7 linked regions of the Homo sapiens genome follow. The protein of the gene in region 4 purifies or fractionates together with the protein of the main gene of each other region. This does not show direct contact. Each region holds a gene or a part of one and is shown on either strand. Other genes may lie near its edges.

Region 1 (4,108 bases), on a different chromosome or scaffold from region 4:
GTTTATTTCCAAATTGGGTTCTCAGAGTTCACTTAAGGTATATTGGAATCATGTGATCTTGTAGAAACAGTGTAATACATATGGGGTGAGTTCATAGACTAGCCTGTGAAGGATTACCTGATGCAAAATAAGACTGGATCATGATGATGTTAGGTTCATTTCTGAATTTTGGATGCTGGGAGTCAACTTCTGTGGTTTAGAAGTGAAAAGGAAGAGATGGGAGACCTGGGAAGCATTCTGAAATAGATGCAGAAATTTGTCTTTGGTTTCCTTCTGCCTTCTTTCTGCCCCTTCTGTCTCAGGCGCTTGGTGCTCTCAGGTTGTCATAAATGCCCAATGTGGGACTAGTGGAAAAGAGAATGTCCTGCTTCCTCAGAGGTAGCATACAGGAGCCCATGGACTGCTGCTTTTGGTTTAAAAACGTGTTTTGTTCACACAGCGTTTTAAAACATGAATCAGGCTGGGCGCGGTGGCTCACGTCTATTATCCCAGCACTTTGGGAGGCTGAGGTGGGAAGATCGCTTAAGTTCATGAGTTTGAGACCAGCTTGGGCAACATGGAAAAACCCCTATCTATAAAAAATTTTTAAAAAATGAGCTGGGAGTGGTGGCGTGCACCTATGGGCCCAGCTACTCAGGAGGCTGAGGTGGGAGGATCACTTGAGCCCAGGAGGTGGAGGTTACAGTGAGCTGAGATGGCGCTACTGCACTCCAGCCTGGGTGACAGAGCCAGACCTTTCTCAAAAAAACCCCAAAGACCACAAATCAAACTTTATAAGAGTCTGAATTTTTGTTTCTTTTGAAGACAGTTATCTAGATTGAGTTTTAAATGGGGCAAACACTCCCCATTGGCAACAATGCCTTACCATCCTTTTCATGCTGCTAAAGCTGTGTGTCATTTGCCATCATCACCAGGCTTAAGCCATTTCGTTACAGTTAAGGAGAGAGTAAACTGTTCCTCATACCTTGTTGAAAGGGACTTTTGTTTCAAAAAATGTCTGACAACATGCAACTAACAGCTGTATTCTCTGCCAGGGCCCCTAGGCACCAGAGTTGTGACATGGCACACTCCTTCCCCTGTGACAATTAGGTCTCTTAATAGAGATAAATGGGGACCAAAACTATAGTCATGGACAGTGTGGGAGCCATTTATTTAGAATTAATGAAATGACTGAAACTAGCTTGCACCGCTAGCTGGCAGGAATCCTTGGAGTGCAGCTGTGTGATCTAAATCCATTTTGGTCCCTGATGGCGATGGTTGCCCATTTTGGTTTAAATATCCATGGGGAGAATTCTGGGTCCTGACTGGCTGGTTCCTTTTTGTTGCCACAATCTGGGGAGATTAGACTGGCAGAATACTGGGTACATGTATATTGATATTTCACCTCCCTATCACTTCCCAAGGCAGGGCTACCTGTCAGTATTTTCTCCACTTAAGAATGGTAAGCACCATTCTGGTATCACCCATTGCTTTGTGGCTCTCGCCAGGAAGAGATTACTATGAACTTGTGAGAGACCTGGACTTGCAAAGCTTGTTTGGACTTAGAGTAGATCCCAGAGTTGTTTGCTGGCAAAACACAGCCTGTGTTCTGGATATCACAGGTGTCTAGTTAATAATGGGTGTGAGGGACTTTACCTCCCCCTAAAACTTCTTTGAGGGCAGAAATGGACTAGTTGACATCTAATCATAAGTCTACTTCTTTTAGGGCAGGTTGAGAGGACAGGTACCATTTATTCTGTCACAGAAACAGAAGGCTGCTAAATGTGGGAGAGTTCTTGCAAGGATTTCACTAACTTGGTGCTCTCTTCCCTTATTGTTGCATTTTATTGAACTTTCGGGAGAGCAGATATCTGTGACTTAGTAAATGTTGTCACCATATGTCACAGATTAAGCCCATCTTTTTTTTCTGGAGAAAGGGAATAAAGTCACCAATAACATGGCGATTGTTAGGAGGCCCTTAAGGGGTGTTTGATCAAGGGTCTTTCAGAGTAATTACCTGGGCAGTTAGGCTGTTCTACAGTCATCTCTCTGTGGTCCTCAGTTCAGACTAGATGTGAACCATCCTGACTTTGAAATGCAGAGTAGTCCCTAGACTGTTGCAACTAGTTTGTTGGGGTGGGATCAGGCAGCGACTTGGCATTTATTTATGCATTTTTTAATCTGCCAGAGCTTCCTGTAGTTAAATAGGCATGATAAATAAAGTTATTTAAAGGAGTCTTTACATAAAACTACTGAATATTCTTACATTTCTTTTTGTAGTTCTTGGTTAGTAGAGAAATTACTGGTGGCCAAATCTCACGGTCTTTACTGTTTTTGCATACTAACACATACTTCACAATATTAAATTGCATTAGATCACAGAAAAACATATTTACTTGTCTGATTAGCAAAACAAGGATAGAATGATGTGGCTTTCAAGTGGTTTGCAAAAATGCCTCTAGAAAAGTAGAGAGGTAATATTGTCTAGTAATTAAAAATTTGTTTTTATTTGGCTTTTTAAAAGTAAATGTGGAGACTTCATTTAGAGGTTTACTTCTAAGTTTCACAAATGTAACAATAACTTTTATTGTTTTCAGGCTGGATCTTACAGAGAAAGACTATGAAATACTTTTCAAATCTATTAATGGGTAAGTTGGCAGCATTGGTTTCATACGGTATATGAGTGGTCTACATATGTCTGCTTTTGTAAAAGAAATCATATAAATATTATACATGTTTCTATGTAACTGTCTTAGAGTGGTATAGTATTAGTGTTCTGAGTTCTTTTATAGGATTTATTTTCTTGGGAGATGCAAAAGTCCTTCAAAAGAGGAAGAGGCAGGTTAGGAAATGTATAATTGTTACATAGTAGACACACATAATTTTTTTAAATGTGTGACTTAATCTTTGTTCTTTTAATGCTTGTCTTAAATGTTTTGAAGCTACCTTGAATGGCGTGGCATACTGCTTGCATATGGGGTTTATAAGTCCAAAGTCTGAGGATGTTGATTTTTTTTTTCAGGTAAATTGGGAAAAAATATTCACCATTACTCTTAATTTTAGGAAAGAAGGCTAATTACAGCAATCAAAAACATTTAATTACCATGTTGGCAGAGATCAGAAAATTTGCTTATACTCTATGGGGCCTGTGAGGAAACAAGTGTGCTCATACTTTATTAGAGGGAATGTAAATCAGGTAGTCTTTTTTGGGGTAATATTGCAATACCTATTGAAATTAGAAACACGTATACCCTTTGACCTGGGAACTTGAGGAGGAATTTTATTTTATAAATATATTCCCACCTTGCATGAAGACTTAGACTCAAATCTATGCATTGTATTAGTAGTATTGTCTGACAGTCACCCCGTAATCCATCAGGTGAGAATTGGTTAAATAAAACAGACTATGTACATTCAATAGAATACTATGCAGGAATTAAAAAATGCGGCTATCTGTAGATGCTGACTTAGATCACCATTGTCCTATGAACAATGTGATAGTGTTATGTGAAAAAGGCAAGGCACGTGATGGTGTGTATAGCATACACCCCGTTTGCTTTTTGTTAAAGGTGGGGGTGAAGAGATATGCATATTTCTACCAAATCAACACAGCAGATTTTAATGGCAGTTGTTTCTGATTGGGAATAGGGTGGAAGTATTTTACTGTAAAATGTTTTTTTAAAAGAGCTTTATTATTTTTACTTCTAAAACCATGTTAATTTATTGTTTCTTTTAAAAAGCTATGTTTAGAAAATTATTTGCCTTCAGTTCAGTTTGGTTCAGTAAATATTTACCATAAAATCAGTTCAATTTAGTAAAACATTTACAATGCCCAGTATGTGCTGTGTGCAAGGTACTTTGGCATGGACAAAGATCATTAAGTCTAGGCTAGAATATAATAGTAGAACCTCAAAAATAGACCTTTTGAAACACTTCATTTTCTTCCCACCCTCTCCCCAGTTGCATTCCTGTTTGGAGAGGAATCTGAATCAAGTAGCAGTGTAGACAGGAATACATACTTTGGGGAGCTAGCCTGTCCAGATGCTCAGTATGTCTTCATGCAAACCAGCAAAAGGAGTCCATTTTCTATCTTCCTCACTCGTTTTCTGCATTGCCACTAATTGTTGCT
Region 2 (4,108 bases), on a different chromosome or scaffold from region 4:
AATCAAACACTTTGTGGATGCACATTTGCTTTTCAAATCACACTGTCCTCTGTATGTAATTCTCTTAGACTTCTAGCAACTTTAACCCTCTGTCAATTTCATTTTCTTTCTTCTGCTGTTGCTATAGTATTTTTCTTATCCCTTGACTCTGATAGTAAACCTGGCCCTCTCAGCAATTGACGCCTGTGTTATTTTATGGATATCCTTTCAGTAATGCCTGTTGATTGGGTAATTAGGGTTATATAAAAAACATACTCTATATAAACTCCTGGAAACATGCAGCATAGTTTTTCAGACAGATAATTGCCTTACATTTTATTTTGGGGTGAGCTCTTATTTGTAAAATATTATAATTTTAGAAATTAATAATTCTTTGTATATGATGCAGTAATTTTTTTTAAATACGAGAAAAGTCTTTTCAGACTTGTAGCCAAAATTGCAATAATAGGAAATGATAGATTAAGGATGGGGCTTATAAACATTAGAACTTTTTTGGAATATGGTCACTTGTTAACATGGATCTTTATATATGAAAAACTCGTACTTAGCAGTATGTTTCGAGATTGTAAATGACAATTTATGTGAAATGCTTATAGCTGTATATTCTATGTGATGGTTTATAAGAAGGGAAGAATGATTAGGTGTCAAATGTTCTTTTTATTTTCTTTCAGTTCAATGCAAAAACTTTCCAGTGATTATGTAAATGCAGAATCATGTGGTGGTTTCTTCTCTGTGCCTCTCTAGACATCTGTTTTTCACCACTTCTTTTTCTTTGTCTGCAGGCCCAGACTGATCTTGCTTCCTTGGCCTTTATCCCCTTGGCTTTCCTAGACACTGCCTTGTGCTGGTGGATATCCTTCTCATTGGCTTGTTTGATGATGGTCCATTTTCTCCCCTTGAGATGGGTTTCCATTGATCTTTCTGCAAAGAGTTTTTATCAGTTTTGTTAATTACTCCTTAGTGTGGGGAACAGTGCATGCTAAGTCTTAACAACCTGAGGGTTCAGGTAAGCAGTTTTTTTTGTTTCTATTTTTTTAATTTTAAAAATCAAATTGGAAATTGGTGACTGTGGACCGAGCTCGAGATAAAATCTTTTGGCTTTTTTCTTTTAAGTGAGCATTTCATCTTGATTTTGCACTTCTTGTTTGTGTACCTAATCATTTAGTGTTAGAGTCACTGGCTGTGCTGGTCCTGCTCTGCCTTTTAGCCTCTAGCAATTCTTAAATGCTTTGAAACTTATGAAAAGATTTTGATCCTTAAAATTTGATTTCAGGAACTATGTAAGGTGCTTTGACTTTTCTGAAACTCTGTATGTTCAGCAGGTTTTAACCCTTATGGAGTGAGTGTTTTCTTGCCTCATTCAAAAGCTGGCTTGGAATTGTTTGAAGATTTCCACCCTTCAGAATAAATAATTGATTCATTTACAGGCAGAGTCAACCAGCAGATAACAAACAAGCTTCTATTTGAGCAATCTTTTTCTCCTGCTCTTTAAAATTAAATTTATATATTAGGGGCTTGGCCTGATGGCTAAAGGATTCAAGTTTTTGGACTTTATCTTATTGAATTTGTTTTGGTTTTTATATATTTGGTCCTATTAGCAGTTTTCATTATTACTGACCTGATAGATTGTGACTGTTGAAAAACTGTGAATGTAAACAAAATTGTTTTGTGAATTTGAGTGGGTTGCTGTATAAGAGTTTTCAGTTAAAGTGTCCTTGGACTAAATAGCCAAAGCTTTTCTAGATTAGTATCTTTCTAAGTGTTTTGTGAACCTCTGCAAGCGTTGAGAGAAGAGGGAGGTGGGAATGGATTGTACAGTAAGATAACCCAATGACTAGGTAACAGCTACGGCTCTGTAAGGGCAGAGCAAGTGCCAAATCCCTTATTTTTGTATCTGCTTCTCATTCTGAAAATTGAGCCGGGTGCAGTGGCTCATGCCTGTAACCCCAGCACTTTGGGAGGCTGAGATGGGCAGATTGCTTTAAGCTCAGGAGTTTGAGACCAGCCTGGGCAACATGGCGAAGCCCTATCTCTACAAAAAATACAAAAATTCATCAGGCATTGTGGCTTGCACCTGTAGTCCCAGCTGCTCGGGAGCCTGAGGCAGGAGAATTGCTTGAGCCCTGGAAGCGGAGGTTGCAGTGAGCCGAGATCGCACCGCTGCACTCCAGCCTGAGTGACAGAGTGAGACCCTGTCTCAAAAAGAAAAGAACATTGAACGTGAGAGCAGATACCATTTTTAGTAGTCACCAATTCCCCTCCTGTTTTTCTCTGGCAACTTCTACTTGAGAATAATGTTCTGAAAATGGAGAGTCATTGCTTTTGGAAGCAAACCATATGAGCTTCTCAACCAATTGTAAGGTCCTCTTAATTCAGGATAGTGCAGGCAACTGATGGCAGGTTCCTTAAGATGGCATGAGGGGACTGAGTGTAGATCTCTGGGAGATTATAGGCACGAGTATAATTATGACCCTCAACTAGATTTGCTGGACAGATGAGAACAGAGCTACCCACCTTAAAGGGAGAGAGAAGATGATGTTAACTCTTTGTCCCTTGCCTGTTACTCATGTTCACTTTATCTTCTGCCATTTCTCTATTTATTTTCTGTCTTTTTTTTTTGTTTCTCTAGAAAGCCTCTTCCTTTCTCTTTTTTATATTTTTTCTCTTGTGATTTTGTACATTCTTACTTTATTCTGGTTCTGTCTTCTCTTTAATGTCTCATTGAAAATGATGACTTCCGGCCAGGTATGGTGGCTCGTGCCTGTAATGCCAGCACTTTGGGAGGCCAAGGCAGGAGGATCAGTTGAGGTCAGGAGTTTAAGACCAGCCTGAGCAACATAGCGAGACCTTATCTCTACAAAAAAATTTAAAAATTAGCCAGGCATGGTGGCACATGCCTGTAGTCCCAGCTGCTTGGGAGGCTGAGGTGGGAGGATCGCTTGAGCTTCAGTGGTCAAGGCTGCAGTGAGCCGTGATTGTGCCACTGCACTCTAGCCTGGGCTAGACCTTGCCTCACAAAAAAAAAAGGAAAAGAAAATAAAATGATGACTTTCTTATTCATCTTGAGGTGTTTGTGAGATTAAGTGAGAATAAGAGAGCTATAAGGCCTCTGAGAGATCTATAAGTTTATTGGCATGACCCCAGATCCTTAAAGAAACCTGAAAACTAATTGGCTAGCTTACTGTTTTTTCCTGAATGTTGAATTCCTTGACCTGCAAACACATATTTATTAGCCTGACTCAAACAATGAAGCTATTAAAACTTCGGAGGAACATTGTAAAACTCTCTTTGTATCGGCATTTCACCAACACGCTTATTTTGGCAGTGGCAGGTAAGTCTGGGACTTTCTTCTTGGAGTTCAAATGTGATCTGTTTAGAATGGACATTCTTAACCTGAAAGGCCATGGGTGGACATAGAAAGTTTTGTATATTTCACTTGGAAAAGGGTTCTTAGCTCTTGTCAAATTCTCAGAAGGATCTGTGGTTTTTAAAAAGTTGAGAACCATTTATTTTATGTACAGTAGCTGGAAATCAACCTCATATTTCAGCTCTTCATTTATCCCTCTTCTATTTGCATTCTTTCTTGAGGCATTCTTTTTCTTGAGGTTAGTTAGCTTAAGTGCCAGAGAGTACTCCTTTTAGAAGACATTACCACATGTTTGTTTAGTTTTATTAAATAGTTGTAGAATTTTAGGGTGCATTGCTATTATAGTGGTTTTACATATGTCAGCAAGCATATGTAAAAAATTGACATTAGGTGGACTGTAACCAAACTAGGCTAATTTGCCTACCTCCTGACCCTTGTACCAGGAATAGTGAGGTCTGATTTATGATTGGAACTAGCTCTTCTGTTTGTGTTACAGTCGTTTTATCAGCCATTTTTTTTCATCTGACCAGCCAAAGAAAAATTAGCATTACTATACTAAGGATAAAAGGAGAAAAAAATTATATTGATAATGCTGGAAAGAGCTATATTTCCAATACCTTATTTTCCAACCACACTGGTTACTGATGTAGCCAGATGGCAAATAACATTATTACCAAATTATTCTTTAAATAGAGAAAGGATTGGCCAGAGTATGTATCATGAGCCTTGCTGATAGCAGGT
Region 3 (4,108 bases), on a different chromosome or scaffold from region 4:
GTTAATACTATAATGAGAGTCTATTTTCACTTTTTTCCTGAAGATCCACTGTTAAAGACCATTTCTTTGAGTTCATTTTATTCATGTGATTTTTAAAAATAAGACTTCCTTGATTCCCAGAAATAAAAAGAGCACAGACGATCTCTTCATTTTTTCCATTACAGCTAATTTTCTACCCAGAGATCTGAAGACAGTTTTATATTCCCATTTCCCAAAGGAATAAATTTCCTCTAATGAAAAATATGGCTACAAATTAGCCTTTTTTTTTTGAGAAAATTTTTTATTGGTAGTCTTTTTTGCTAGTTTTTAGAAACTTGGAGGCTTATGTGTTTTTTATTGCTATGAACTTTAGCTCAACTGTCTAAAAGTGTAATAGTAAATAAATTATTTAACATAGAATTGTAATGCAAGCTGATTCACTTTCTTTCTGGTAAGCTCAATGTATCCAGTTTGTCTTTTGAATACCTATCAATTAATTTGGCATATGTACCTTCAAATTGATTTCTGTTCACTGCTTTATGATATTCCCTTATTAGTAGTCTGCTTTATGCTCTTGCTTGTAAGATAATTTTAACTTAAAGAAATTTTAACGTGAGAAAATAAGATACTCATGATTTACAAAGATTATTTTCTTCTTAGCAAAGAAAAGTTGGGTTGAATTTTGAATGTCTCCACAAGGTGAAAATGCAGTTAAAAAAAAAATCTGTACCATAGAGAACGTTTTTGTTGACTTACTGAAATTTAAGGTCTGTATGTGAGTGATTGAAATAACAGTTTCAAATATAAGTTGTTCCCTTTACATTTTCTTCTTGATTTCCTTTCATAAGCAATGCTTATTCAAGGTCATAAGATTAAAAAAGAAAATGGTGCACCAATACTTTGTTAGCATTCTGAGTTTCCTGTATAATGAGTCAATTATGGGGATGTTATTTATTTGAATTTAGAATCCGCTTATTTTGGACTAATGGAGATTTTAATTCGTGATCAAATTTGGCTGTAATTTACGAAGAAGCTATAGTGCTTGTCAATTATATGTAATTTCCTAAGCCTATCACCTATTTGTTATTATTTACTTCTATCAAATTTTTGCTCTTAGCTTACTTGAAAAATCTGAATGTTTGTATAGTGGTTTTATTTGTGAGATGTACATATCTATCTTTATAGGATTCTTTGGTCATACTGTTAAAAAATACAGTTCTTTTGGTGATCTTGTTCAAGTCTTGGGTACTCCAGGCAAAAAAGGCACTAGTTTGAATCCTTTGCAGTTTGATAACCCAGCAGAATTATATGTAGAGGACACAGGAGATATTTACATTGTGGATGGAGATGGAGGATTGAATAACAGATTGATCAAACTGTCCCAAGGTACATTACTTGTTTATGGTATTATAAAAATATTATAAATTGATTTTAATTTGTTCGATATTTGGTATAATGTTTTAAGTGTTGTGTATGAAGCGGTGTGTAAAGAGCTAAGTGTATTACTACGAGAAAACTGAAAAACAGATGGGTATGATTGCCCACAATAAATGATCCTGATAACAGGCCCACTTATTCTTCACCAAAGGCCAGGAGATTCCTCCAAAAGTAACTGGCAACAGTATGAGAATTTCTAGTGGGCTCAGGAGATAAGTGTGTATCCTATTTAATTAAGCATGTAGAAATTAGAAACCTAGAATCCCAGACTCAAGTATCCTACAGGCTGATTAATCAGCAAGCATTTTATTGAGTGCCCTTTCTGTGTCCTCTCTAGTATCAGGAGGTGCAGATCTATTATGTATTGAAACAATGAAATGTAGTCTATGCTATTGATTCTTAAAGCAAAATGGACTTAGGAGGAGAAACTAAATTGCCTGGAGAAATAGAACAAGATATCATGAAGGAAGTAGTTATTGAACTAAACTAGTTTTGGTGGGAGGAGAGGGGAGGATGGATGGAACATTCATGGAGGGTTTATCATGCATGGTCTACAGGCATTTATTAGCAGGAAAGAAGGTGAAGATGCACTTTTTCAGCAGCAGAAAATACAATTTGGGATGTTTCTGAAGTCTTATTTGAGGATTATTAAAGCCATGTTTTTGCCTATAACATTTTTGAGGTTTTCCTAGTAGAAAAGTGATGTTACAACAGCAGGTTTTATAAGACATTCTTTTAGGATCTACTTCAAGTGAGCTCTGTCATTTGGAGGCTGTGTAGTCAATTTATCAATTAGTAACTGAATTTGGTTGATAACAGTTGAAAGGGAAATGTAGAATAAGGATAAAGCAAGAATCCAAAAAATTGAATGAAAGAAACAACGAAATCTAGGAGACAGATTGAATATAAGTGTATTAGTTTCCTGTGGTTGCCATAACAAATTGCCACAAACTGCGTGGCTTTAAACAACATAAATTTATTCTCACAGTTTTGGAATCCAGAAGTTAGAAATCTGGTAGACTGTGCTCACTCTAAAGGTCCTGCCTTGCCGCTTCTAGTTTCTGGTGGCTCAAGCATTCCTTGGCTTGTGGCAGCAAAACTCTGATGTCTGTCTCCATATTCACATGGCGGCCCCTTCTTCTCTGTGTGTTTTTGTGCCTCCAGTCTTTCCCTTCTTTCTCTTAATAAGGATTTAGGGCCCACCCTAAATCCAGGATGATCTCATGAGATCCCTAATTTAATTTTATCTGCAAAAACTATTTCCAAATAGCATCACATTCCCAGGTATCAGGAGTTAGGACTTGGACATCTTTTTAAAGGACCACAGTTGAACCCACCGTAGTGCGTAATAAAGGAGATAGACGGTAAAATCATAATGTGAATTTTTAAGGTCTGTGGAATACTAATATCAAGTAACAGATAAGTTGGGAAGGGGAACCAGTTTTAGGGAGAGGATGGCATAAACCCTAAACAATGATTTTGAAGCAGTCATGAAAAATTCAAGTGGAGATAATAATTAAAGAAGTAGATTAATTCCCTAAAGCAGAGAAGGAACTTTAAAAAAAAAACTGTAAGAAATGGGCAAATGGGCATATAGACAGGAAAGCCGAGAAAGCATAGTCAAGTGAACCAGCGGTGTAATTAAATAGTTCTTTGTAACCTGTTTCATAAAATATGCAAATGCATGAGACATTCTATATGTTGCTCTGACTATATATTTTTACCGTTTATAGATTTCATGATCCTTTGGCTGCATGGAGAAAATGGGACAGGGCCTGCTAAGTTCAACATACCTCACAGTGTTACACTTGATTCAGCTGGTCGGGTACAAATACAGCGTCATTGTGTCTGGGACTTTGTGTCTGAATATGTTTGTGTGTGTGTGTGTGTGTGTGTGTGTGTGTGTGTGTGTCTGGGCATGTATATATAGATTGTGGTATACATGTGTGTCTGGGCATGTGGATACATGTGTGTTAGTGGGTATGTCTGGGTAATTACTCTGGGGCTGGGTGTGCACACATACTTTCTTACAAGTGTTTGAGTCCTATAGTGAGGGGGTTCCCCAAACATTTAGAAAGGAGCAAAATGGATTTCCTGTACCATTTAAAAGGATAGAAGGCACAAATAATGGATCTGAACATAAAGTTACCTGAAAGAAAAAGTTGCCCTCTTACTGGGAAAACTCCACTAAAAGTGTTTGAATATCTTTTCACTTCTCAAGAAAAAAATGTGCTGATCTAAAGTGGAGTGGGAGAGGTTAACCTTGGAAGTCTGAAAAAGAGTCACCTAGGCAAACTCTTGTTCTCACTAACTCCACATTGTTTAGGGAACAGAAAGCTTTAGCCAACAAATTTCAATCAGTTTCTCTCTTTTCTACCCTACTCACTACTATCTCTTTTGCATTTACTCAATTTCTAAGCATAGATCTCACTTCTTTGAGGTTACCTTTTCACAACGAAACCGCCACCAAAAAATTTGTATATTAGTTTCTCCTGCTCTTTTCCTATAGCAGCCTGTACTTCGTATCATAGTAACTATCATGCTATATTATAATCATTTGTCTGTCTCCCCTAATAGATGTCAGGCTGTTGAAAGTGCTTACTGAATCTCTTTTGCTTTATTTCTTTGTGCCTAGTACACAGTAGTCATATTTATTTATTAAATGACTAAATGTCTTGACACACAATGGGTA
Region 4 (4,108 bases):
GAGTTGTTTGCCTTTCTCAGTGCTGTTCCAGTAACATTATGAGATCAGATGCCTTCATATTTGGTTTTAAACCAGATGTCTGGTTTCTCTTCCTAGGCCTCCTCCTAGATATAAGAAGATTCTTTCTAAGGTTGAAAAAGTCGTTGTGTTACAATTTGTGCCAGTCGTCTAATCATTACAGTTGTACAAATGTTCTCCGCTCATTCCCTTCAACTATTTGTGCAAGCTCATGGGTTTCAGTCTCTGTTCAGTCAAAGATGGAGTCATTTATAGCATAACGATTAAGGTCATGGAGTCTGAATCCCTGCTCTGCCAGTTGTTCTGTGGCTTCAAGCAGGTTAACTTCCCTGAGCCTTTGTATTTTCATGTGAGTATTGGCCGGGAATGGTGGCTCACGCCTATAATCCCAGCTTTTTGGGAGGCTGTGGTGGGCGGATCACCTGAAGTCAGGAGTTTGAGACCAGCCTGACCAACGTGGTGAAATCCTGTCTCTACTAAAAAATACAAAAATTACCCAGGTGTGGTGGCGCATGCCTGTAATCCCAGCTACTTGGGAGACTGAGGCAGGAGAATTGCTTGAACCTGGGAGGTGGAGGTTGCAGTGAGCCGAGATCACACCACTGCACTCCAGACTGGGCAACAAGAGCAAAACTCTGTCTCCAAAAAAAAAAAAAGTATTAATCTAATACCTACTTTTCAGGGTAGTTGTATTACTTGAGATGATGTATTTAAAACGCCCAGCATTTTGCTTTGGGAGGCTGAGGTGGGAGGATCATTTGAGGTTAGGAGTTTGAGACCAGCCTGGGCAAAAGAGTGAGACCCCTGTCTCTCCAAAAAATAAAAATCATCCAGGTGTGGTGGCATGCACCTGTAGTCCTAGCTGCTGGGAGGCTGAGGATGGAAGATCGCTTGAGCCCAAGAGTTTGAGGTTATAGCTTTGATCACTCCACTGCACTCCAGCCTGGGTGACAGAGGGAGACCCTGCCTCAGAGAAAAAAATGCCTAGCACAGTACTTAGAACACACAAAGACAATACATTGTAGTTGTCTTTTTTATAGCAATTATGAATCATACGTGGAGCTTGCTGGTCTAATCCAGCTTTTTAAAAAGGATTCAGATGGAATTGACTTTCATGTCATTGAGTAATGTCTTGTTCAGTTGATTCCTGTAGGTCTGCCATCACCAGGGAAATACAGTAATATTGTCGATTTTGGAGTTTAATTTAAATGCTCATGATCTGCAGGTCTGTGTACTACAGACTGTTGCAACTTTTTTTTTTTTTTTTTTTTGAGACTGAGTCCTGCTCTGTCACCTAGGCTGGAGTGCAGTGGCACGATCTCAGCTCACCTCTGCCTCCCAGGTTCAAGCAATTCTCCTGCCTCAGCCTCCCAAGTAGCTGGGATTACAGGCACCCGCCACCATGCCCAGCTTATTTTTGTATTTTTGGTAGAGACAGGGTTTTGCCATGTTGACCAGGCTGGTCTCGAACCCCTGACCTCAGGTAATCTGCCCATGTGAGCCTCCCAAAGTGCTGGGATTACAGGCGTGAGCCACCATGCCCAGCTGCAACTTTTTATCTTGTTTGCAGTTGGAGAAATTACTGTTTTTAACATTGTTTCTTTTCAATACCTGGAAATTTGATCAAATACATTGTCATTTCATTTCACCTTTTTTCTTGTTTTGAGTAATTTACTGTTTTACATTATAGAATTTGTTGTAGCATTTTATTTTAAAGCATTCTTAGCATATTTATAGGTATTCTTTAAATGAGTCACTACTGAAATACATGATTTTTATTTCTTTTGTTTTGTTCGGATTACCTTCCTATTACTGTTAACCATCCATAGTTTTGGATTGACTATCAGGGTGTACTTTTCGTTATCGTGGAAAAATTAGTTGACCCCATACACAGGCTTCTAATCATGTAGCTATTCTTTAAAGACTCAGATTAACAAGATTCAAAGGTTGTTAGATAACTTCTTGTTGGTTTTATGTGACCCTGGATTCTTTTGTGTGGCTGTATCTCTACTGTCATTATTATTTCATAGGGAATTTCATAGAGAATAGTAGTATCATATACTATTGCAGAGAGGATAGGAATATGCATTTTTGCAACCCTTATGAGGCCTTCTGACTTATTGTTTCTAGAAGATCAAATATTTTTTCCTGAAAGTCCTTTGAACCACATTAAATAGGCTAAGGATTAAATGCCAAAAAGGAGATAATTTTTTTTTTAATTTTCTGGTTTATGTTTAGGCATTATTTACCTTAGGCTGTATTTAAAAAGAACCATAATGGTAAGAAAACAGTATGATTTTAGAAACATGCATTCTATATTATTGGTTTCATTATACATTTCTGTGTGTGTGTGCACAAAAGAATGACTGCATAAAGCAAAGGTTCACATTTTTTTTAATTTTATAAATTCCAGGGAGAAACACATCTCATCTTTCCTAAAAAAGCTTCAGTGGAGCAGCTGCAAAAAATTCGTGACCTGATTGCCATAGAGAGAAGTAGCAGACTGGATGGCTCAAATAAGAGCCACAAAGTAAAGTCATCTCAGCAACCTGCAGCCAGTACCCAGCTTCCTACAACACCATCTTCAAATCCCAGTGGGTTAAACCAGCACACAAGGAACCGTCAAGGGCAGTCATCAGATCCACCATCTGCTTCAACGGTAATGTTAGAATTAAACCTTCTTTAACTGTTTCTTTCAAAGTGTTGAAACAGCAAAAGCTTTGGAATGTGTTATGATTTATTCCTGAATTTATGCCCCATATTTTGTTCTTAGTTCTTATAACTCTAAAACATCCAAATTTCTTCAGCTCTTTAAAAAATTGTCAGATTTCCTCTACTGCATTAATACTTCTGATCTAAATTGTACCTGCTGCCTTTCACTGTGGGGGTTATTTCCAACAGCACAACCATTATCAATACCTTAATTCAATAAAAAAGCTTCTTTAGGTTTAAGGTAATTAAGAATGCATTAATTTAATGATAGTGGATGCTAGCAAATTAGTGAAATTTTATTATTAATATACACCATATATACTTGTGAAGAACTAAAGTCAAACTTACAGGCATTCTTGATAAACTGAAATGATTCCATTTGATAGGAAATTATCCTGTTTACAAAAATCTCTTTTGACCAAGGTCCTTACATATTCTTCTCCTAAGTTTTTACTGTCAGAAAAATTCTTGTGATATTTCTGTAAGTCTAACAAGCACCTCAATGGATTTTTATGCCCCTCCCTGAGATCATGTGCATTCCATTTTGAATACCTTAGGTCTTCATCAGTTTTGCAGTTAAGGTTGGTACAGTTACAGAAGCTCACTTAACATCTTTCTTGGTTTTTAACACCTTTTCTTAGGAGTTTTCCAATTACAGTGTTAGAATATATCTTTTAAGATTTCCTACTTTATCTTTTTAATTGCAGTATTATAGTTTAAAATGCACATAGTTAACCAATCTGCAAAAAAGCTTGCAAACATTTTATTTTACAAAATATCTCTTTCCTGGGCTAAGTAGTATTTTGTTAGTGTCCTGGCTCAGGAAAGCCATTCACATTTTCTTAATCTTGTTTAAACTTCTTTTCTTTTGTTTTGTTTTTTTCTTTTTTTGAGACAGAGTCTCATTCTGTCCAGGCTGTAGTACAGTGGCAAAATCTTGGCTCACTGCAACCTCTGCCTCCCAGGTTGAAGTGATTCTCGTGCCTCAGCCTCCTGAGTTTCTGGAAATAAAGGCATGCACCATCTCTCCTGGCTAATTTTTGTTTTTTCTTCTTTTTGAGACGGAGTTTCACTCTTGTTGCCCAGGCTAGAATGCAATGGCACGATCTTGGCTCACTGCAACCCCCACCTCCTGGGTTCAAGAGATTCTATAGCCTGCGCCTCCCGAGTAGCTGGGATTATAGGCACCTGCCACCACACTTGGCTAATTTTTTGTGTTTTTAGTAGAGACGGGGTTTCTCCATGTGTGCCAGGCTGGTCTCAAAACTCCTGACCTCAAGTGATCCACCTGCCTTGGCCTCCCAAAGTGCTGGATTACAGATGTGCACCACCACACCCAGCCCTTTTTTTAAGTTCTTAATCTTACAATTCAGATATA
Region 5 (4,826 bases), on a different chromosome or scaffold from region 4:
CGTTTACTTTTCTTTCTTTCCTTTTTCTTTCTTTCTTCCTTCCTTTCCTCTTTCTTCTCTCTTTTCTTTTTCTCTGTTTATAGCAACAATACCACACAGCTCAAAGAAAAAAGAATAACATTGTTTTCAAAGTAACAACCTTTTAGGATAAACTCCCCTTTTCCTTATTTTTTAATAAGAAAAAAATTTAAATTTAATTATAAAAAGCATTACCTCTTATTGGAAAAAAGAATTCTGATCCTTGGCCAAGTCCCCTGAGAGGGGAGTGGTAATTTGGCCAATGTGTTTCTCTTTTGCAGCATAATTTAAAAAGTGACATGGTGATCCTGTGTTTGGGCTTGACTCAAATACAACAGAAAAAGAGAAGGAGAAAAGACACAAGCAGAGGGCAGAGGTGGAAGAGGGATTTTGGGGTTGACTGAGAGTGGCTGGTGTGGCTGGTGTCTATCTTCCTTCCCTGGAAAGTTTGCCCAGAGCCTGCAAGTTTCCTCAGGAGACAAGCAATGTTATAATGCGAATAACATCTAACATTTGTTCAACACTTGCTATGGACCATGCATGTTTTATGTCTTTTTTTTTTTGAGGCAGGGCCTCACTCTGTTGCCCAGCCTGGAGTGCAGTGATACAATCACAGCTTACTGCAGATATGACCACCTGTGCTCACACAATCCTCCCACCTCAGCCTCCTGTGTAGCTGGGACCAGGCACGTGCCGCCAGGCCCAGCTAATTTTTTAATTTTTTATAGAGATGGGGTCTTGCTGTGTTGCCCAGGCTGGTCTCAAGCTCCTGGCCTCAAGCAATCCTTCCACCTTGGCCTCCCAAAGTGGGCCACTGCACTCAGCCATGTTTTATAAGCCTTCACATGAATTGTGTTGTTTAATTTTATGTAGCATGACGGAGCCACTCTAGGGAACCCCTGGACTCTGGGTACTTTGTGCTAACTCTGTCTGCTCCCCAGCTCACATCTGCCTCCCTGTCACTAACCTCCTCCTATTTTCCACTCCGCCTAGTCTTCTCGGTCCCAAAGCCTGCATGGTAATTTCTAGCTCTGCTTTTCCATCTCAAGCTCTCAATCTCCAGCTCTCTATTTCATTTCCATCCTCCTGGGGCAATGCTGCTTCAGACCATTCTGCCAGTAATGATTTCCCATTGTCCAACTCTGGAAGCTTCTCATTGGCTCTAGGGCTCTTCTACGAACCACCTCCTCCTATGGGCACCAGCAGCTAAATCACATTTGAAAAATAAAATAATAACAAATAATAACACTGCATATAAAAACATAAGTGGCCAAGACATAGACAAATAACTTTTTTAAGTGCTGTGTCTACAGAGACACAGCTGGGAAGTTTACAAATGGGCCCACCGAAACGTATTGTTTCCTGTTTATGCACTGAGTCCAGAGGTTTGCGTTACTAAATTCTAAGTGAAAAAGAGTTTAAATGAGGCCATGATGTGGGATAACAGCAAATTAAAATCTTGCCCTTTTCCTTGGTTCCTCCCTTTGGTTAGCTCAACTGCAAAGTTAGTGTTGACTTTGTCATCTTCTAAAATTCCACCTCTGTGGGTGCTTGTATTTCTGGAACGTTCACCAAAAATAATAAGTTTGAACTCTCTCCCCTGGTGTTAATTCTGGGTTGTTTGGAACCCAGTTTATCTGAAGGAGTCGGTCTCTGGACTTTCTAGTAAAGGGTGAGCATAGATGTGTGGAAAAGGGGGTGCTGTTCCTTTAAATTCTGCAAGTGAACTTGACTCAGGAAGGCCAGCGGCTCAAGGTCCAGCCCCTGGAAGAGAGAATAGCTACAGATTCTCCATCCTCAGTCTTTGCAAGGCGACAGCTGTGCCAGCCGGGCTCTGGCAGGCTCCTGGCAGCATGGCAGTGAAGCTTGGGACCCTCCTGCTGGCCCTTGCCCTGGGCCTGGCCCAGCCAGCCTCTGCCCGCCGGAAGCTGCTGGTGTTTCTGCTGGATGGTTTTCGCTCAGACTACATCAGTGATGAGGCGCTGGAGTCATTGCCTGGTTTCAAAGAGATTGTGAGCAGGGGAGTAAAAGTGGATTACTTGACTCCAGACTTCCCTAGTCTCTCGTATCCCAATTATTATACCCTAATGACTGGTGAGTACCATGTCCTCTTCTGGGCAGGGAGGGGAGGGCTGGCATCCAGCAGGGAACAGTGAGCTCCTGGCATTGGAGTCTTATTTAAATGCTCTGGATTCTCTAGTCCTTTGGGACATCAAAGGTAGATAAAAAAAATCTGTGTTCTTGGCTGAGAAGACTTTTGTTTTCGTGGCGGTATTGTTTCCCAAAAGTTATCCCAAGGACCTGTTTTGGATTCTCAGTGCGGAGGACAGAGAACTATAGCAGTACATGATATTTGACGATATTAAAAGTGGTCGTTTATTTTAGAAAGAGAAATTCTAATGAGGCTCATATTTTCTAAGTTCAAGTCTGCAAAAGCAACAGGTGTCCGTGCATGTGTCCCAAACTCCTTCTGTCCCTTTTCTCTGTGGTCATGTCATCCTGGCACCCTGTGGGCTTGTTTCTCAGTGTGTTGGACTGTGAAAGTACCTGTGGGGTCCTCAGAGGGGAGTGGTGCTCCCGGATTACTTGGGGAAGGGGGGATGTTTAGGTCATATCCTTCCCTGTGACTTAGCAATGCCACCTTCCCCTTCTTTTGCCTTTTTGGCCAGGTAAAATGATACGGAGAAGAAAAAGCTTGTGTCGTTCAGGTTCCCCATTTGTGATTTGCAGCATCTACAAAAGACCAACCAGCAAAAACTCCACAAAACAAACAAAAACCTCGGCTAACCCAGACTGCCTGGGCTTGGGATAGCTGATTTTCCTAAGGACGGCCTTCATCTGAAATTGCCAGGACTCCAAACGCGACTGCATGAACCTGAGCCTCTATCCGTGCGATAATAGAATGTGCAGCCCTCTCTCTGCTCACAGAGTTGGATTCCCAGTTTCTGGTTTGTTTTTCAGCTATAACCTTTGTAAAGGCAGCGAGAGGCTCTCAGAAAGAATTTAGCAAACTATCCAGGGAGGCTGCTAAGAATGCACTGTTATTGCTGGTTATGCGGGACTCAGCTATGCACTCTGAGCACAGAGAGAGCTCTGCTAATTATGTTAACAGAAAGAAAATGAGATCTCTGATATCTCATGGACCTCCACAGAACACTAAAGCCAAAAGAGTCTAAAACAGACATTTATATCTCTGACTTTGTGCATAGATACTATATACACATGTACGGAAAAATGCCATAAACTGATGCCCCAAACTGAAGGGGAGAGATACTTCGGAGAAATAAAAATGAGGGCATGAGAGAGAGAAAAAAATCAGACTGCACACAAGCAAGGAAGTTATGTATTTGTTTTTTATTTCCCCCAGCAGACAAAAAAACAGTCTCTAAGATAAACAGAATTAACAAAATTCTCTGGCCCTCCCCTGGCATGTGTCTCCCCTTGCAGGGAAGCAGTTTGCAGGCTGCCGGCTCTCACATAGACGTGATTGTGTGGACAGCCGACTCCAGCTCTGTGCAGCGGCTTCACACACACAGCCCACCCCCACTCCAGCTGTCTTTCAGAGCCTTGCCAGGGGACCCAATTCATAAACTGCCACGCCACGTGCAGCTTCTGCAATCTTAGTGGAAAATGAACAAAATCCATCTTAGAAAGGACTCAAGTAAGTAAAAGGACCATTACAGACTCCACAGAGACACTAAGCCAATGACATGGCCTTTTGTTTGTCAGATCCACACTCCTGATATTGGCACAAGGAATAATTTGCACACAGCCTCCGTCATGCTGAGACACACCTTCTTTTCCGGCTGTGGGTGTTTTCCCTTGTGCTGTCCTGAGAGAAGGGCCCCTTCCTTTATGGGCAGCACAGGTCCCGTGAGTGTCTGACAAAGATCTCACCCTTGCTTTCAAACTGAGGCTGGCCCGAGGAAGCCACAGGTCTCCATATGTGTTAAGTCTCTGTATTTTCAGATGGCCAAATGTATTCACTGATGTGGAAGTCTGCTTGGTCTATATGTTTCATAGAAGCTACCCTGCACAAGGGAGGGATCTAGCAAGGCTCATGTTTCTGTACAAATGTCCTTGGGTATGATTTGTCTTGTACCTACTGGGCAGACTTGCAGACTTGAAGCAGAATTCGCAGGCTGGGAAATGCCAGGCCATGAACCTGGTATCACCTCCACTGTCTTGGAACTGACTCAGAGTTAAATTTAGACTATTTTCCCCAATACCCATACTTATTTTTCCACCTGATGCTGAAAACCTCCTCTTTTACTCATATAAAGAAGGATATAGCCATTGGGAATTGTAGCTAAACATATGGTTTGAGCATTTGAGCATTTTATGAACCAACAAAATTGCTATGCTAGATCTTTTTGGAAGCAAAAGATATGCTGTTTTAGGGTTCCTCAGCATTCACAAGAGAGGCTAAGCTCTCACTTCATTACCCGAATTATTGCTCAGAATACAGAAAGCCCTTGGTGTTCTTCCCTTTGCATAACGAGGAGTGATGAGTTGTTGGAAAGAATGCTGGCCCTTGAGCTGGGAGAACTTGCTTGGAGACTTCAGGCAAAATAAAATGAGATGAACTGCCGGGGCTGCATCAGGCCGGGATTTCAGGTGCTGCTGGATGCAGACATAGAACTAGGCAATGCATGGGGAATTTTATTTTATTTTATTTCACTTTAAATTCTGGGACACATGTGCAGAACGTGCAGTTTTGTTACAGAGGCATACATGTGCCATGGTGGTTTGCTGCACCTGTCAACTCGTCATCTAGATTTTAAGCCCTGCATGCGTTAGGTATTTGT
Region 6 (4,108 bases), on a different chromosome or scaffold from region 4:
CCCTGTCATAAAGAAGCCAGCCCCATGGATTTCCTAGTGAAAGGCACAGCCAGGCCCCAATCTTCTTGCAGTGATTACTACCCAAATCGCAGGCAAGGTGCTTAGAAAAAAAAGTTAAATAGCCTGGGAAGGCCAAGGCCAAGGCCAAGGCTGCAAACCCAGACCCATAAAATAGTGGTGACCACTAGAAATTTGAAAGGGCCTCTCTTCCTGTCATCCCTTAGGTCACAATATCCATCTCAAACTCCAGAAAGGACAGCCACAAGAGGAGAAATTCCTTTTTTTTTTTTAAGTCTGCTCTCACAGAGCCACGTAGCAAGTTTGATGGAGGGTGCATGCCTTGGCACATTGCTAAGCACGGCCACTGACTCCACTGGGGTTGAGCTTGGTTCAGCTCTCCCTTTGGGGGTAGAAAATAGCCCGGACCTGTTAACCAACTGCTAACTCAACTGTGGTCACCAATGCCGGCTTTCTTTTGGTTGACCAAAAATGTGTCCTTGGTTCCCTCTTTCGCCTTTCTGGGACTGCATTCTTCCATCTGAGTCAACAAGGGGGAGAGATTCGAGGAACTGAATAAAAGGTCTTTCTTTGGGCACTTCAAGGAACATATTTTGATAATTATCTTCTGCAGGGTTCACAGAGTGGGTTTTCAAAACAGCCAATTGGATCGGTAAAAATAAAGATTTCAGAGTCTTCTCTGGAGCCAATGCTATATTTAAAGTGCAGAATAGCTATTAGTTTAAGGTTGGAGAACGCTATAAGTAAGGTTGCAAAATTGTTTTCATTAGAGCCCTTCCGCCACTACCCCCTCTCCACAGGCTTCCTTTGTGGGTTTGTCTGTAATCGGTTGGGAATCCGCCTGCCCGCTCAGGTCTCAAGACACAGGTCCTTTCCCTTCAAATCTTCTTGCTCAACAAGTTGTCCTTTTCTGCTTCCGTGGCTCTGCCAGTTTCTCTCCTCCAGCACTCGCCCCTTTTTTGGTCCCCATCCTCAAGCTCCTGCATCCCTAAAGCCACATCTGCTGCTCTGAGACAGGCTTCCCTCCCGGTTCCTGCTACCTCCACCTGAATCCCTTTGGCTGCCTCCCACCCTGTTCTTGGTAACCACAGAGGTTGTGGGTAAATCCCTGCTTTATCCTAAATCCCCTTTATCCTAAACAACTTTCTTGCCCTCAACTTTTCTAACTTGGACCCTATTCCAGGTGGTGCAATTCTTCATTAGATGAGCACGGCCCACTCTGCACAGACATTCAGCATCCTGGCCTTGCCCGCTAAAGGCCAATAGCAATCCCTGGTCATTGTGACAACCCCGAATGCCCACCCATTTCTAAATACCTGCTCGCAGGCTGGTGCTGCCTCTAGTTGAGACAAGAACCTAGGCTACTCACTCAATGCAACAGACTCCCCCCATTACTTACACACTGATCTCCTCTCTGTCCACAGCACCAACCCCCCCGACTCCCCTGAACCCCATGAATTCAGAGGGATGGGAGGGGTGGGAATCACTGGCTTTCTTTTCTTTTCTTTTTTTGTTTCTTTTTATAGACAAGGTCTTGCTCTATTGGCCAGGCTGGAGTGCTGTGGTGCGATCATGGCTCAGTGCCGCCTAGACCTCCCGGGTTCAAACGATCCTCCCACCTCAGCCTCCTAAGTAGCTGAGGCTACAGGTGTGTGCCATCACACCCAGCTAATCTTGCTTATTTTTTGTAGAGACAAGATCTCACTATGTTGCCCAGGCTGGTCTCAAATTCCTGGCCTGAAGTGATCCTCCTCCCTGGGTCTCCCAAAGTGCTGGGATTACTGGCATGAGCCACCATGCCTGGCCAGGAATCACCAGTTCTCTTGATCCCCGTTGTCACCCCTGATCCTGCAAATCCTACCCTGTCTCGCATGGGCACCCCACTTCCCTCCTCTGAGTTTCATGTTCCTTATGCGTAAATGGTGGGGAGATCGTCCGCTTCAATGAGCTGCTGTGAAAATCCAATGAGACGTATATGAAAAGTACCTGGTACATCGTAAATGCTTAATAAATAGTAGTAGCAGCCACTTTTATTAGGATTATTTTTCTATCCTATTCCAATTAATGCTGCCATTTATTGCCATCTCCCAACCCCCATCACTCCCAGGACCAATTTCCAACTTACAAGAAATCAGTGTTTCAAAACATATCCTATGGGACACTAGTCCCAAATTATTCTTTGTGAAAAAGGATTATTTGATCAAGTAAGTGTGGAAAACATGGCATACTCTATCGCCATCTTAGAGATTCACATTCACATAGTAAGCATTTTGAAAAGTCCTGCCAAAAAAAATAATAAGCCCATTTAAATCTGTGTTTAACTCCACGTTTCTCAGACTTATTTGGTCATGGAACTTCCTGCAGATCTTGAAAAATAAATGTATCTTTTAATTCTGGGACCTATGTTCAGAGGCAGAGGGACTCTGACTTTAGGGAACACTGTTCTGGACAATGACATCACCTGGATTGGATGAATTCTTCATTCTGTCTCCTGCCATCAACTTGAATGGAAGCAGCTTTTCTGTTGAAACTCAGGGCTCTGGACATGGGATTTACTGTCTCATCTCTACACATCCTGCCTGCCCTCTGGAGCTTAAGGCTTATTGCTGTTCCATCTGCTTGATCTCAAGCCCCTTGCCTTCTTCATCCCCAATGCACTCAGCCTTTCCTCGCTCTCCTTCCTCCAAGTTCTCATTCGCCCTGACCTCCAAGCCCAGCCCAGTCCCCAAGGGTTGAGTTCTGCCCCATGGAGCCTGTAGTTCTCTCTCCTGGCCATGGTCCCTTCCATCCTCAGCCTGCTTTCTTCGAATTGCACTAGAGAAGCCTGGAGCTGCAGGAGAGTGTCAGAGGGGGGCATGCATTTGGCTTCAGCCAAGTCCTGCCATCTGGATCCTCACTTCCCATTCCTGGGTTCCTCCTCAGGTCAGCCCACCTCATTCCCCAAAGATGAGCTCACCCCCTCCTTTTCTGAAAGGATCAAGACCATGAGGTTCCAACTTCTTTCTTTATCATCCACTAACTCTGTCCAGATGCCTACACTTCAAACCCAGTCTGGGGGAGGGATGGGGAAAGAGGCCTTCTCGTGCATTCTGAGTAGCCTGGCACCCTCTGTCAATACTGCAAGGGCGAGTGCCCTTTGACTCAGTAATCCTCCTTCTAGGAACTTCATGTTAAGAGAATAATTACACAATTAGGCCAAGGTGTATGTGTAAAGGTGATCACTGCATGCTATGATAAATCTGAGGGAAAATGCAAATAGCTAAAATGCCCATCTCCAGGGGATTGGTTACATAAATGCTCGTAGAGTCTTACTATGGGATGTTATGAAACCATTTTTTAAAAATACTGCAAGCTGGGTGCAGTGGCTCACGCCTGTAATCCCAGCATTTTGGGAGGCTAAGGCAGGAGGATCACTTGAGCCCAAGAGTTTGAGATCAGCCTGGGGAACAGGGTGAAACCTCATCTCTACAAAAAATACAAAAATTAGCTGGGCATGGTGGCATGCATCTGTAGTCCCAGTTACTTGGGAGGCTGAGGTAGGACAATTGCTTGAGCCTAAGAGGTTGAGGCTGCAGTGAGCCATGATAGTGCCACTACCCTCCAGCTTGGGCAACAGAGCAAGACTCTGTCTCAAGCAAAGAAACAAACAAACAAAAACAAAAGCAACAACTAAAAACCAGCACTAAGAACAAAAACGCTAAGTAATCGGGAGGCTGAGGAGGGAGGATTGCTTGAGGTCGGGAGCTTGAGACCAGCCTGGGCAACATAGCGAGACTTCATCTCTACAAATAATACAAAAATTAGCTGGGCATGGTGGCACCTGCTTATAGTCCCAGCTACTTGGGAGGCTGGGAGGATCCTTGAGCCCAGGAGGTCAAGGCTGCAGTAACCTACAATGGTACCACTGCACTCCAGCCTGGGCACAGAGTGAGACTATGTCTCAAAGTAAAATAAAATAAAAATAAAAATAACATGGATAGTGTAATCTTATCTACATGAAAAAAATCTGTGCAAACATACACAGAATGATTTCTGAAGAATGTTCATCTACATTTTGTCATTTATTATCTCTACAGGGCAGGAGTTCACG
Region 7 (4,108 bases), on a different chromosome or scaffold from region 4:
TGAGCTGAGATTATGCCAGTGCACTCCAGCCTGGGTGACAGTGAGATTCTTCTGTCTCAGAAAAAAAAAAAAAAAAAAAAAGATTGACTCTTAAGCTGATGCCTGAGCCTTCTCTGAGAAAGCCACTCTGCTAATCTGCCCTTGATGAGGCTCCATTGATTATCTAAGATGAAGGAAATTCATAATGACCACTTCACTTAGTGCTTAAAGGAAGCTTTATTATTATTAATATTCTTTAACTCACCAATTTCTAAAACATACAGCTTCTCACTGTTTATAATCTTAAGCTCCCAATTCCTGCAAAAAGATAAAAAAGGAATTTACTAGAGATCTGTTATTTCGATTCAGAAAGTCATGGCTTTTTAATAATGAAGACTTTTTAACCCCATTATATAAATGAACTGCTTTATGCTTTATGTTACCACCATCTAATGATCATTGAAAAAGTTTTGATGGTAATGCATTAATGTAATTATTAATAAAAGAAATTAAGTTCTTTTGTTCTTCAGAGAAGCTTTCTTTATAAATTGCTTTTGCAAAAGAAATTATTTGTTTTAATTAGGTATCTTGCATAGAAGAAATTTGCTATTGCTCTCTCATGATAATGCACTTTATACTACTTTTGCTGGCAGTATGTGGACCCCTTTTATCCCTATATTGTTATGTCAGTTGTCACGACATAGCTCATTATAACACAGATGTACAACTGTTGTGAATGAAATTGTGTTCCCTTAACTTCCCTGCAACACATCAACTACAAAAACTATATAATTGTTTTTGTAAACATGTACAAAAACTATGTAATTGTTTGTTTTTATTTATATCAACTCTGCCTCATCCCTAAAAGGATTGCGGGCTACTTCATGATGATATTAAACTAGCATTAAGAGGGGCAATGAGACAAGTTCTTACTCTTTCATGCAGGTTGGAATGCAGTGGCGCAATCACAGCTTATTGCAGCCTCGACCTCCCCAAGCTGAAGCAATTCTCCCCTCTCAGCCTCCCAAGCCGCTGGGACCACAGATGCACGCCACCATGCCTGGCTAATTTTGTATTATTTGTAGAGACAGGTTTTCACCATGTTGCCCAGGCTGGTCTCGAACTCCTGGACTCAGGCAATCCACCTGCCTCCCAAAATGCTGGGATTACAGGTGTGAACCACCATGCTGGCCTATTTTTATATCAATGGCTTATTAACTTGTGGTATGATCATCAGCATATCACCTATTTCTGTGGCTTAGTTTCCTAATTTGTAGTGATCCCTCAGATTTTTTAAATAAGGGTGAGAAGTTAGAATGAGATTCATGTTCTGGAGAAGATAAAGCTTCAGAGAATGTAGAGTATGTGAGTTCAGAGAGGGGACAACTCCTGAAATAGGTTTACCAAGAGGATCCTGTGTACAATGGGTGCAGAAGGAGCCCTGCACAAGGGGGCTGTACAAGGAGGTGAATGGGGCTGAATTCCAGCTTAGCTTCTGGAGGCAGGAATGACCTTTTGTAATTTATCTACCCAGAGGGAATATCTTTTTCTGATTTGCACAAAGGAGCTTTACTGTGCTGTCTGCCCCTGTCTACCAGGTTTAGGTTTCATCTCAGTTGCTAACTCTGATCAGTTGGTGGGGACTGCCTGAATCCCTGTATGGTGTAAGATATCTATGGGTAGTGGAGGGAGTAGGCAGTGGCATGTATTTGTAGATTCCGAGTCTTGAACTTTTAATGGTTTAGAATGTAGATATAAATATGTTTATTTTGCAGTGTTTGAGAGTGCAGGCTCAAGAATCAGACTGAGTACAGAGTCTAGCTTTTTACTTACCAGTTTTATGTCCTTGGGCAACTTCCTTAATTTATCTAAACCTATCTCTGTTCCTTATTTATAAAATGGAGATAATGATAATTTTTCCCTCATGGAATCACTGCAAGAATTAAATGGGCAAATGTGTTTAAAGTGCAGTGTAAGCATAGTTCTTAGAACATAGCAAGTATTTAGTAAGTGTTAACTTTCGTTGTAGTAATTGTTGTCTGTCAGAGTACATGGATGTCCCTTAGTGTGTCATATCCTAGTGTCTACCTAGTCCGTCTCTCTTTTCTCCACAAATTCTACTTGCCTTGCTGCCTTTCTCCTGGGTAATTGCAATAGCTTTGCATGTTGTCTTTCCACTTCCAGTTGAGAGAGATCCTATCTGATGGCCCTGAATTTCTAAATAAGGTGGGCATAATACAAAGCCATCTGTTGAAATTAAGGGGAACAAGAGTAGGGCTGGGACTAGAGATGAGAAAATATGTGGAACATCCCTTGCAGAGCAATTAGGAGGGCATCTACAAGGATCATTTTGTTGCCCCGAGATCAGAACACATGAATTTGAATTGAGTCCCTTCATTATCATTTTAGAATTTCTGTAGTAGTATTCTGTAACCAGACTGAGAGTACAGAAAGTAGATGGGGACTGTCCAGGGATGAAAATGGCTGTGAATATGTGGAAGATAAAGAGGGCAAGGATTCTAGGAGAGTCAGATGGAAACGACTGACCACAAGTTCCAAGATCTGGAACCAGGCAGTTGAACCTCGATTGGAGATAGCAGGCTGAGAACACAAGGAGAGGTAAAGACAAAGGTTTACCTGAGGATAAAGACTAGGTTCCCTGGCTGAGCGCAGTGGCTCATGCCTTTAAGTAATCCCAGCACTTTGGAAGGTTGAGGTGGGAACATCACTTGCGCCCAGGAGTTCAAGTCTGCAATGAGCTGGCAAATTGTGCCACTGCACTCCAGCCTGGGCAACCGAGCAAGACCCCGTTTCTTAAAAAAAAAAAGAAGAATAGATTATTCCCTGAAGAAGGGAAAATGGATACATAAATTGTGATATACACATACATAGAAAATAAAAGGGATGAGTGAACTTGAGCTAACTCTAAGCAAGAATAGCCAGTTGCAGAGAAATACCATTTATGTAGGATTTTTAAAAATGTAAAACAATTTTGTTTCTAGACTTTACTTGAAGCCCCCACGTCAGTATTTTAGGCAAAATTCTCACCAGTTTGTTTCTCTGGGCTCCCAACTCGTGATGGATTAGAAAGAGCGAATTTTAAAAGTTACCCCATTAGGTACAATAAATGACTCATTAGTGAAGTTGGAAGATGCAGAGAACTATGAAATTTGACACAAAAAATGATAAGGCATATGAGTTTCGGTAAAATTAATGCAGGGTAAACAGTCTTATGCCTAAATAGCACTGTTAAGGCAGCATTTGATAGCTGATATTCCGTGATTATGACCTTGTGCCATCAAAAGTCCATTTGAATTTTATTTGGTATATTTTTATGAAAAGAGAGTATGTGATTATTTTAACATGTTCATGAAAATGGTTATGACTTTTTTAACTTTTGGAAAATAAAAGGAGTAAGCTTCATATATTTGGAAAATTCATGCTTGTTTGAATAAAGAATTACTGTAGTGTGAAACGAAGCTGATAGCTTAAGATATAAATGACAACATAGAATTGTTCCTTGAGTTATATTAATATACTTTTTGAATTTTTTTGACAGATTGTTTAACAAACAACAGTGAAGAATTATCAAACAGCACAGTATATTTCCTTAATCTATTTAATCACACCCTGACCTGCTTTGAACATAACCTTCAGGTATTTTATATATAATATTTAAAATTAAAATGCTGCCTTGTACAAAGGAATAATGTGCAGTTCCAAGTTTTTAGAGCACTAATTATTGATATTTATCTAAATTCATGATGTAAAGGAGTTAGTGGACCTGGATTTCTGCTCTTAAGTAAGTTCTTCTACTTACAAATCATGAAAACCTCAGTTCTCTCATTGTAAAATGGAGATAATATCTATCCTGCCTATCTTAAAGTATTTTGTAATGAGAATCTGGTGAGATAATGATTGTGAAAACATTGATTGAGGTGTGTGATTGTTTAATTAAAACACAATGGTTTTCAATCTGACTTACGTAGGTATTTTGCAGTGTAGTATGATTCTGTCTATAGGAAGTTTATTCTTTGCCTGAAATTTGCTTAAGTATGTTTTACCTACCTTAAAAAGCACTGTTTAGTAAGATAACTTTGAGTATTGAATTATGATAATAAAAGGTAGC

Evidence for each region.
Region 1: the proteins of NGLY1 (region 4) and GGH purify together in Homo sapiens (co-immunoprecipitation; one large-scale study listed by IntAct). This does not show direct contact.
Region 2: the proteins of NGLY1 (region 4) and TMEM87A purify together in Homo sapiens (co-immunoprecipitation; one large-scale study listed by IntAct). This does not show direct contact.
Region 3: the proteins of NGLY1 (region 4) and NHLRC3 purify together in Homo sapiens (co-immunoprecipitation; one large-scale study listed by IntAct). This does not show direct contact.
Region 5: the proteins of NGLY1 (region 4) and ENPP6 purify together in Homo sapiens (co-immunoprecipitation; one large-scale study listed by IntAct). This does not show direct contact.
Region 6: the proteins of NGLY1 (region 4) and SCARA3 purify together in Homo sapiens (co-immunoprecipitation; one large-scale study listed by IntAct). This does not show direct contact.
Region 7: the proteins of NGLY1 (region 4) and OSTM1 purify together in Homo sapiens (co-immunoprecipitation; one large-scale study listed by IntAct). This does not show direct contact.

Annotation. Positions count from the first base shown.
Region 1 is NC_000008.11:63,028,686-63,032,793, reverse strand, and holds part of GGH (gamma-glutamyl hydrolase isoform 1 precursor), read left to right. Parts: intron 1-2,576; coding exon 2,577-2,627; intron 2,628-4,108. UniProt on the Homo sapiens protein: Hydrolyzes the polyglutamate sidechains of pteroylpolyglutamates. Progressively removes gamma-glutamyl residues from pteroylpoly-gamma-glutamate to yield pteroyl-alpha-glutamate (folic acid) and free glutamate.
Region 2 is NC_000015.10:42,227,935-42,232,042, reverse strand, and holds part of TMEM87A (transmembrane protein 87A isoform 1 precursor), read left to right. Parts: intron 1-127; coding exon of another isoform or gene 128-199; intron 200-782; coding exon 783-851; exon of another isoform or gene 852-921; intron 922-3,222; coding exon 3,223-3,331; intron 3,332-4,108. UniProt on the Homo sapiens protein: Potential monoatomic ion channel gated by mechanical force, implicated in normal touch sensitivity through the generation of mechanically activated currents.
Region 3 is NC_000013.11:39,040,941-39,045,048, forward strand, and holds part of NHLRC3 (NHL repeat-containing protein 3 isoform a precursor), read left to right. Parts: intron 1-1,164; coding exon 1,165-1,365; intron 1,366-3,149; coding exon 3,150-3,241; intron 3,242-4,108.
Region 4 is NC_000003.12:25,762,635-25,766,742, reverse strand, and holds part of NGLY1 (peptide-N(4)-(N-acetyl-beta-glucosaminyl)asparagine amidase), read left to right. Parts: intron 1-2,431; coding exon 2,432-2,677; intron 2,678-4,108. UniProt on the Homo sapiens protein: Specifically deglycosylates the denatured form of N-linked glycoproteins in the cytoplasm and assists their proteasome-mediated degradation. Cleaves the beta-aspartyl-glucosamine (GlcNAc) of the glycan and the amide side chain of Asn, converting Asn to Asp.
Region 5 is NC_000004.12:184,214,865-184,219,690, reverse strand, and holds the start of ENPP6 (glycerophosphocholine cholinephosphodiesterase ENPP6 precursor), read left to right. Parts: upstream 1-1,817; 5' UTR 1,818-1,871; coding exon 1,872-2,112; intron 2,113-4,826. UniProt on the Homo sapiens protein: Choline-specific glycerophosphodiesterase that hydrolyzes glycerophosphocholine (GPC) and lysophosphatidylcholine (LPC) and contributes to supplying choline to the cells.
Region 6 is NC_000008.11:27,640,257-27,644,364, reverse strand, and holds part of SCARA3 (scavenger receptor class A member 3), read right to left. Parts: intron 1-4,108. UniProt on the Homo sapiens protein: Seems to protect cells by scavenging oxidative molecules or harmful products of oxidation.
Region 7 is NC_000006.12:108,054,018-108,058,125, reverse strand, and holds part of OSTM1 (osteopetrosis-associated transmembrane protein 1 precursor), read left to right. Parts: intron 1-3,538; coding exon 3,539-3,636; intron 3,637-4,108. UniProt on the Homo sapiens protein: Required for osteoclast and melanocyte maturation and function.